3 linked regions of the Homo sapiens genome follow. The protein of the gene in region 1 purifies or fractionates together with the protein of each later gene. This does not show direct contact. Each region holds a gene or a part of one and is shown in the gene's direction. Other genes may lie near its edges.

Region 1 (2,563 bases):
AACCTTGCCTGAGTTTAGGGACGACAGGGATCTCGTCATGGCACTGAGTGCTGGCGGGCATGGTGGGTTGTTGAATGATACTTCAGCACCCCATCTGGAGAACTCAGGGCACACAATATTCAATGACCCCTTCTTCATCGTGGAAACAGTCTGTATTGTATGGTTTTCCTTTGAGTTTGTGGTTCGCTGCTTTGCTTGTCCCAGCCAAGCACTCTTCTTCAAAAACATCATGAACATCATTGACATTGTCTCCATTTTGCCTTACTTCATCACACTGGGCACTGACCTGGCCCAGCAACAGGGGGGTGGCAATGGTCAGCAGCAGCAGGCCATGTCCTTTGCCATCCTCAGAATCATTCGTCTGGTCCGAGTATTCCGGATCTTCAAACTCTCCAGGCACTCCAAAGGCCTGCAGATCCTGGGCCACACCCTCAGAGCCAGCATGCGGGAACTGGGCCTTCTGATCTTCTTCCTCTTCATTGGGGTCATCCTCTTTTCTAGTGCTGTGTATTTTGCAGAGGCGGATGAACCTACTACCCATTTCCAAAGCATCCCAGATGCATTTTGGTGGGCTGTGGTGACCATGACAACTGTGGGCTATGGGGACATGAAGCCCATCACTGTAGGGGGCAAGATTGTCGGGTCCCTGTGTGCCATTGCGGGTGTCTTAACCATTGCTTTGCCAGTGCCAGTGATTGTCTCTAACTTTAACTATTTCTACCACAGAGAGACTGAAAATGAGGAACAGACACAGCTAACGCAGAATGCAGTCAGTTGTCCATACCTCCCCTCTAATTTGCTCAAGAAATTTCGGAGCTCTACTTCTTCTTCCCTGGGGGACAAGTCAGAGTATCTAGAGATGGAAGAAGGAGTTAAGGAATCTCTGTGTGCAAAGGAGGAGAAGTGTCAGGGAAAGGGGGATGACAGTGAGACAGATAAAAACAACTGTTCTAATGCAAAGGCTGTGGAGACTGATGTGTGAATCTTTTTCCACCTGCCACTGCTCCCCCCTCAGCATCTCCAAATATATTTATGCATAGAGAGTGCAGTTATGAAAATGAAATATGCAAATGATCCAATGCATACAGTAGTACACTATTTAATGGTTATACATGGCATAATTGTTACTAAACTTGTATTACATATCAAATAAATGATACATCTTGGAGAAGAGGGAGGAATAGGAGCAAATCTATCTTTATATTTTTATTAGAATGCAAGAATTTTGCACATTAACTGGAAAAGATGTTAACAGTAAAGATGGAGAGAGAGAGTGTGTGCGTGTGTGTGTATATGTGTGTGTGTGTGAAGTAAATTGTCAATGTTAGTAATTGTGCAGTGAAGGGAAAAGTTGGCATTTTGAAGTATTTACTATGTAAGAACTAATGAATCTGAGCAGTCATTTATCAGTGCTTTAACAGCATATCGTATGTCTTTGGATTCTGTAGTTGTTTTTTAAAAATTGTAAGAAATACTGTGTAGAGAAAAAAGAAAGTAAATTATTTAATAGACTATAGGTCACAATTTTATCTTGGATTTAATTAAAATTTATTTTTAACTGGAAATTAACTTTTAAAAAGGCTGCAAGGGCCTTTAGAAATTGATTATATTTTGTTATTAATTTTGGGAAGACTTAACAGCAAATGTCTAACATTATAGAATAAGTGAAATTGGAGAATATGTAATAAGTTTTGTTTGCAGGTAACAGGACTGGATTTTTTTTTCTTTGCACTACTTTATATGCTGGAGATTGAGAGAGACTTCAAACTGTGAATGTTTACTAATGTAACAGTTCAATGACAATCATTGGAAGAATGATTTCTTTAGTCTTATTTTATTGTTTTCTTTTCATTGTGTGAGACTAATGATCATGCAGATAACATCACAGGATTCTCTCCTCTTTTAAAATCTAAATAACTGATTGACAAAGGAATTATGAAGTAAAATTTAGCAACTGAATCTTTTGAAATTGGTCTGTTAGAATGATGCTTCTGAAATCATACTATTTTATATATTCTTCTGCCTTTTAACTCCAGAATAATTTAACCAAAGTTAATGCATGCACTGAAAGAATTCTTGAAGAAGATGCCAAGCAGCTACAGTGATTATGGCTTAAAATTTTTCTATTAAATGTGAAACATAAACGCTAGATTTATTAAGTTTATTTTTTTGTGCAGTTATATAAGAACAGAATTTGGGGATTAACCTCAGATTTTAACATTATATTTGCTAAAATGGACATAAGGAAGAATTGTGTCAAACATTTGGTTTCAACATCACCATCATTATTATCTTTATTAAAGGAATTTATGACACATATAACTGCATTTAAGTCATGACAAAGCATTCTAGAATGTGAGATAACAACTAGCGATCAGCCTTGCACTATGAAATCATGAGGTATAGGTTAGAAAACTCAGAATGCATAAGAGGCCTTATTCTACAATGTTTATTTAACTTCTGTTCTTTATAAAATGATTGTCTTGAGCTCTGGTTGGGGGCGGGGGAACAAAACAAAACAAACAACACTGCATACACTATTTCGGCACATAGTGAACTCTGG
Region 2 (3,662 bases), on another chromosome or scaffold:
TTGCTTAAGTTTATACATATTTTTTTCTATGCTTAAAAAAAAAAGAGCTAAAAATATGATTTAAAGGTTGTCAGCATTTGATGCCGAACCCACAGGGACACTTTGTGTATTTGCTTTGCAAATGGTATTAATAGAAGAAAATCCTGTCTGTTAATAGTGTTGATCATTACCAGCTGAAGTAATATTTTCTTTAGTGATATACTTTTAATGAGTTAAAATTTTTGCTAAGAAATGCCAGTTACAAAGTTTTGGTATTCAGTGTTAGTCATTTGGGTCTCAATGTCAAGTTCAAAGGAGGTATGTGAAGTATGATTTGGTTTAGTTTTCAAATTAAACTTAAATTAAGTAAGGCCAGTAAAACCTTACTGACCTCACTAGTTTGGGGCTAATTTTATATTGGGGAGCTGTATGCATTTATGAAAATAATTTTGCTTTCAAGTAGATTTATGGCAACTCAAATTAAGCCAAAAAAAATTTACTTAAGATTTCTACATCAATTAAGGAATAAGAATAACTTGTTAGTATATTAAGATAATGACTGTGATTTATTTGTGCAGCCACATTAAGTGAAAAGAGAGCTAAATTTGAAGATAAAATACGGAATTCCTATCTCACTTTAGTATTCCGTAGTTCTCCTGTATAATGCTGGCGTTATTAATGTAATAATAATATTATCAACATAACAAAAGTAGCTCTTTCTCAAGCTTGTTTATATTATTCATTGACAGCAAACTTTAATTATATATTTTCCTTTCTTGCTATAATATCTAGAAGTAGATTTTTTAAAATGTCGGTTAATAGTACTAGCAGTTTAGTGTAGGCAGATAGGGTAGTTGTCATTAAGGAAGCCTATATAAAGGTGGGAAAAATGGGGTTGCCAAATCAAATTAGCCAGGTATTTAGCTAGAAAGTGGAATAGTGGGAGAGTCACCACCTAAAGAAGGTCACTGCACACCACTTTTGTTGCCTCATTGTGCTGGGTGTGATCTTTTTCCTGTTGGCTGGGGCTGCCTGTGAATGCTAGGTGTAACTTACCATCTCTTACTGTAGTGATTTTCTGTGCCCTGATGGTGAAATGCCCTGCTTTACTAATTGCTCACCATTTTGCCCATTGTTTTATATTTATATATTTGTTTGTCTGTTTGTTTGTTTTTGCATGTATTAGATACATGTATCTAATACATTTTGGAATTATAATAGCATGCAGAGATTTGTATATCGCCAAATAATTGTTAAATATATGACCAGAAATTAAGAGAAGACTTACACTGTCCTCTTGTGTTATGTTTTTGAGATTTGTTTTAGCTTTCCTTTGTTAGCTTAATTGGTTAGAATACTGCTCAAAGCCAAGGTTAGGAATTTGAATTCTCTATTAGTTAGTTGGTTTATGTCACTGATTCTAAAGGAAATCCAGCAAGCCAATACAGATGCTTTCATATAAATCAGTTCTCACCGGTATTTTAAATAAAATTTTAAATTTATAAACTGAATATGATGCTTTGTGATTAATCATGCATTATTAAACTGCTTATTCAACTTCTCATACTACCAAATATTAAAAATAATCTTATAAAAATGAAAATTTTAGCTTTTCCTAATGAAATGAAGCAAAAATAGTGGTTGTTAAACTAAACCTCCCATTTTTCTTGTGTCTCTATTCCCTTCCTTCTTTTCCTCTTTTTTATTTTGTTGTAATTAAACTCAGAAAAATTTAAATTGCAATGTAATTTTGTTACTTTTCAAGTGTTTTTATATAATACAATGTGCTTTTAGATACTTAATTTTATTACTGAGTATTAAAGAAAAGTATAGTCCAAATAATTTTTATATTATTTCTAGAAGAAATGGCAACATATCTTCGTTATGTAAGAAGGCTAGATTTTTTTGAAAAACCAGACTATGACTACTTAAGAAAGCTTTTTACTGACTTGTTTGATCGAAAAGGATATATGTTTGATTATGAATATGACTGGATTGGTAAACAGTTGGTGAGTATTCTATATAATAATATATTACTTACAGTATCTGTTGCCTTTTTAATAGTACAATATCTTCAATTGAAAAGAGTTGAGAACAAATAGTTGTTTTAAAGGATTCATTTTATTGTTTTTTAAGGGACATTTCTGCAGGTAGTGCCGTACTAGTGTTCTTTGAGTTTTTCAGAAGCCCTACATCTGGATTCTTTGCCTTTTAGCATGAAGAGTTACTTTTAACTTTTCATCCTGATTTAGTTCTTAATGTCAAATATACTCTTTTTTGTGTAATATTCTCATGATTAATTTAATACTTCAATCCCTTGATGAAAATTAAAATTTGTATGAGTCTCTTCAAGTCAAAATATTGGAAATAAGTAATTTTATTAGTTTTTTTATTCTTTTAATTTTCTTAAAAGTTTATTCTATGTATACATTTGCTTTGGAAATGAGAGGCATAAACATATACATTTTTATCATGTTGATATGAAAATGTAGCCTAAAAGTAATGGCAGCATTAAGTGTTCTGTAGATGTAAAAATAAGTACTTTATAAAGAATTTGAATATTTTAAAAACACTTTAAAAAGTAGGTATATTCTTTTTGCTTTACCTTCTTAGCTTTAACAACATATTTTGATAATGATGCCTTTACTTAAAGCCTTAGTTTATTTAACAGTCTTTTGTTTTTTTCCTTAATTCTTTTAAGCAGCTAAATGATTTTAAATAAGAATTTTAAAATGGAATGTATTGATACCAATTGTTATTGTATTGTAGCCTACTCCAGTGGGTGCAGTTCAGCAAGATCCTGCTCTGTCATCAAACAGAGAAGCACATCAACACAGAGATAAGATGCAACAATCCAAAAACCAGGTTTGCTGCCCTTTAGATATGAAATACCTTCCTTTCATGATTGAAACATACACTTTTTTCTTCAATAGATAAAACAGACTGAAGGATTGAAAATACATATTTTTAATAGATAATCTATTTTCTCTTAATTTCACTGTTTATTAGTTTAATAATAGCATTAAAATGTTTAATCATAAATCCTTAATTAATGGTACAAATTAGTGTAAACTTTTAGGAATATGTGATATTCTGTTAGAATGGAAGTATTTGGATACCCTATTAGAATGAATTGTAATAACACTTGGACTTTCTAACTGTAGTTTAGTTCAATAAATTATTTATTGAATTTCTGCTATTGTAAAGCTACTGTTCTACACATTATAGAAATTCAGAAGTAAAGAAGACTGTATAACCTTTAAGAATGATTTTGTCACCAGTGTCTAAAAGCAGTGTTGTAGCTAAGAGTTCACTCAATTCTTTAGAATCAGGCATACATGGATATGGCTTGACCCTGGGCAAATAAGTTAATCTGTCAAAGCCTCAGTTTCCTCATCTATAAAATGGAAATAATGCATGTTAATTTAGAGCATACAGTAAGCTTTGAATCAAAACTCTTGTGTCTGCTGTTACTGTTATTATTATTACAATAAATACAGAAATAGCTATATTTAAAAAGAGAATAAGCTATATTACATGAAACACTAATAAAGTAGCATGGAGATCATATGTGGGGCTCTATGAAGATTTTATGGAAAAGGTAGCTTTTGACATGAACCTAAAGAATGAATGGAGTTTTTAAAGGGAAATGAAGATAAGGGCATTTTGGGGAGAGTGAATAA
Region 3 (3,662 bases), on another chromosome or scaffold:
ACAGGCATGCACCACCATGCCTGGCTGGTTTTTTATTTTTAGTAGAGCCAGGGTCTAGCTATGTTGCCCACGCTGGTCTAGAACTCCTGGGCTCAAGTGATCTTCCCACCTCAGCCTCCCAAAATAACAGGTGTAAGCCATTATAACAGGTGATATAACAGCCTCCCAAAATAACAGGTGTTAGGCAAAATAACAGATGTTAGCCTCCCAAAATACCAGGGATAACAGGTGTCAGCCATTGTACCTGACCTGGATATAATGATTTTTAAAGATTTTTTTTTTTTTTTTTTTTGAGAAACAGGTGCAATTTCTTCCTTTGGTTGAGGAGGCCACTTAATATCATTGCTAGGAGGATCAAAATGAATGATCCCTTACTTCTGTTTCCTCAAAATAGTTAAAGTTTTGGCAGTCTCATACTGTCTTTTAAAAGAAATCATATTCCACTGTCAGATTCAGAAAAATTTTAGAGTTCTTACTTTTGGAATACACTTGGTTTTGGAAGGTTCACTGTTAAAGATTTTGAAAGCTCATCCCTCCTACGTTACACTATTTACTTCCTAGCTGCCATTTGAGTTAGGAACTGTGTTGCATTGTGCATTATTTTGTGAAATGCATTGAGCATTGTGTGAAATGCTCCACATGTAACCCAGCCTAACTTCAGCAATTGTAGATTGTGTGATGACTGGAAGTGTCTGTATGTGTGCATGCTAGGCAAATGTGTCGTATTGCCTTTCTTCTGAAAGTGCATCTGGACAGCATGTCTTTGTTCCTTGAATTCAGTTATGTGAAATATGTCTTTGAGGGTACCTCTTTCTCCACTTATTGGTACAAGCTGTGCTTTCACTTTTGACAAGGATCAGTAGGCAGTTTAACTTTTGCTGCTAGTTGGTTTCACCTCTTTGTGCTTCAAGAGAACTCACTTCCTTTCCACGCAAGTGTTACTTCTGTGATATTTTTACATTAGTGACTGAGGTAGACACTGTTCCAGCTGGCTGTTCAGTCATTATTTCTCAGGGTACCTGGGCAGCATGGTGGCAGTATTTCCATATAATCTCCTCCACTCTGGACCTGGGTTTGTCTACACGGTGGAGCTTACAGCAAGACTGGTTGAAGGGATCTTTGTTTTCTTTTATTCTTTGTGTAGCTGTTAAGGAAGAGGAGATTATATGGAACAAAAGGGACATTGTTGTTCCATCTTCAGAGAGACATTTCATCATGAAGAAATGAAGAAAAATTATAGTGGGTTAGTTAATATTTCAAACGTCAACATCCGCAGGAATGAAGTCACTGTCTGACTCTCAGAAATGCCAATGGAATGATCTATGTTGTTAATTAACAGAGACCCTTTTACATTTTAATCATGGGGTCTCCTTTGCCATGTATTGGAATTCATTTAGGATAATGGTCTATGTAATAATATTGGTTCCTAATATGATTTTTTCAAACTAAATATTTTTAAATAAACAGAACTGAAGGGCCAACCTGGACATGCATATCTGGAAACATTGAAAACACTGAAAGATGTGCTAAATGATTCAGAAAATAAGGCCCAGGTGTCTCTGAATGTCCTTAATGATCTTGCCAAGGTGGAGAAGGCCCTGCAAGAAAAAAAGGTAACATATATCTTCCATGTTAGAACTCTAGCGCTTCTTCTAATATCTCCTCTTACATATTTTGAAATGTTTTTTCAGAGATTAAAAAAAAAGTTGGTCAGTTTTGTTCATCATTGGTGCAAAAATGTGTTTATGATTTGAGGGTTAGTTTGACCTCACATAAAAGAAAGTACAGTTATTAAAAATTTTTTCATAGAAGAAAAGCATATTTTCTCCTTCTGCTGTGATTAGCTTAAAATTCTCAACCTGTTCATAAAATCTGCTAAAATATCTTTATGAAATGAGGACTATCAGTTGACGTGTTGATGTATACTTTTTTCTGCATCGAATAGGAATGTTTCCGAGGTCATTTAGTTGAGTAGCCTTATGGCTCTGTGCTATTAGATGAAAAGGAGAGCAGCCATTGAGCACTGCACACTTGGCCCACACTGGGTTTGCTGTTCCCTTGGTTTTTAGGGTTGAGAATACACTGTATTGCCCACACACAACTCATGAAGAAAAAGCTTTAATTTTTATGATTATGCCTATTTTTTTCATGAGTTTTTCATGTTTTGTTTTGTTTTGTTTTTTGATTTCCAACTTTTATTTTAAGTTCAGGGGTACTTGTGCAGGATGTGCAGGTTTGTTAAATGGGTAAACGTGTGTCATGGTAGTTTGCTGCACTACGTATTAAGCCCAGCATCCATTAGCTCTTCTTCCTGATGCTTTCCCTCCCACCATGCCCCACCCTCCAACAGACCCCAGTGTGTGTTTTTCCCCACCATGTGTCCGTATGTTCTCATTATTCAGCTCCCACTTATAAGTGAGAATATGCGGTATTTTTTTTTGTTGTTTCTGAATTAGTTTGCCGAGGATAATGGCTTCCAGCTCCATCCATATACCTGCAAAGGACATGATCTTGTTCCTTTTTATGGCTGCATAGTATTCCATGGTTGATATGTACCACATTTTCTTTAAGTAGTCTATCATTGATGGGCATTTGGGTTGATTCCTTGTCCTTGCTATTGTGAATTGTGCTGCAATGAACATAGTGTGCATATATCTTTATAACAGAATGATTTGTATTCCTTTGGGTATATACCCAGTGAGATTGCTGGGTCAAATGGCATTTCTGGTTTTAGGTCTTTGAGGAATCACCACACTGTCTTCCACAGTGGTTGAACTAATTCACACTCCCACCCACTGTTCTTTTTAGATAAAAATGCTTTCTAATGCATTTTAAAGTGACTTTTGACTTTATATAGCCCATTTTACTATATCTGTGCAGACACATTTTTGTGCATATTTTTAATCTTTTAAAACTTTTTCCAGACCCTTGATGAAATCCTTGAGAATCAGAAACCTGCATTACATAAACTTGCAGAAGAAACAAAGGCTCTGGAGAAAAATGTTCATCCTGATGTAGAAAAATTATATAAGCAAGAATTTGATGATGTGCAAGGAAAGTGGAACAAGCTAAAGGTCTTGGTTTCCAAAGATCTACATTTGCTTGAGGAAATTGCTCTCACACTCAGAGCTTTTGAGGTAAATCCAGAGGCCACTGGGAGTTTAAGTTTATTACGGGGTAAATAGTAATTATCTTATAAGATTCACGTATTTATTATTTAAATATTTTACATTCTTTCTAGATCCCCATTTATTATGTATTTAAGTTGGGACTTATCAAAGATGTACTTTTAATGTGCTAGAGAGCACATTTATTTCCTTTTGCCTGGAAGCAAAGTCAAAAGTAGAGTAAACTGGACCTTGAAGATAAGAGAAAATTGCTTAAAAATGGTCAAAATAATGTTTCAGGCATGGAGGGCCTGTGTGAAATACAGACTGTTGATTAGATTATAGTAGTAACTTGGTTGGGGTGGTAGAAATAGCCCAGGTAGTAGTAAATTGCTGAATACATGAAACTACTTTTTGCAGGTTTTTGACATTTGAAGTCAAAAGTCAGAGATAGGCCATTGACAGTGTCAGAGTGGGAAGGCAAATCGTTCCAGGGACATGAAAATTCAGAAACAGGATCCTTCACTACACCTGAAAATGTTGACAGATGCAGCA

Evidence for each region.
Region 2: the proteins of KCNA4 (region 1) and CSNK1G3 purify together in Homo sapiens (affinity purification with mass spectrometry; one large-scale study listed by BioGRID and IntAct). This does not show direct contact.
Region 3: the proteins of KCNA4 (region 1) and UTRN purify together in Homo sapiens (affinity purification with mass spectrometry; one large-scale study listed by BioGRID and IntAct). This does not show direct contact.

The regions. Positions count from the first base shown.
Region 1 is NC_000011.10:30,009,136-30,011,698, reverse strand, and holds the end of KCNA4 (potassium voltage-gated channel subfamily A member 4), read left to right. Parts: coding exon 1-982; 3' UTR 983-1,969; downstream 1,970-2,563. UniProt on the Homo sapiens protein: Voltage-gated potassium channel that mediates transmembrane potassium transport in excitable membranes. Forms tetrameric potassium-selective channels through which potassium ions pass in accordance with their electrochemical gradient.
Region 2 is NC_000005.10:123,588,571-123,592,232, forward strand, and holds part of CSNK1G3 (casein kinase I isoform gamma-3), read left to right. Parts: intron 1-1,839; coding exon 1,840-1,988; intron 1,989-2,748; coding exon 2,749-2,844; intron 2,845-3,662. UniProt on the Homo sapiens protein: Serine/threonine-protein kinase. Casein kinases are operationally defined by their preferential utilization of acidic proteins such as caseins as substrates. It can phosphorylate a large number of proteins. Participates in Wnt signaling.
Region 3 is NC_000006.12:144,459,730-144,463,391, forward strand, and holds part of UTRN (utrophin), read left to right. Parts: intron 1-1,467; coding exon 1,468-1,613; intron 1,614-2,924; coding exon 2,925-3,137; intron 3,138-3,662.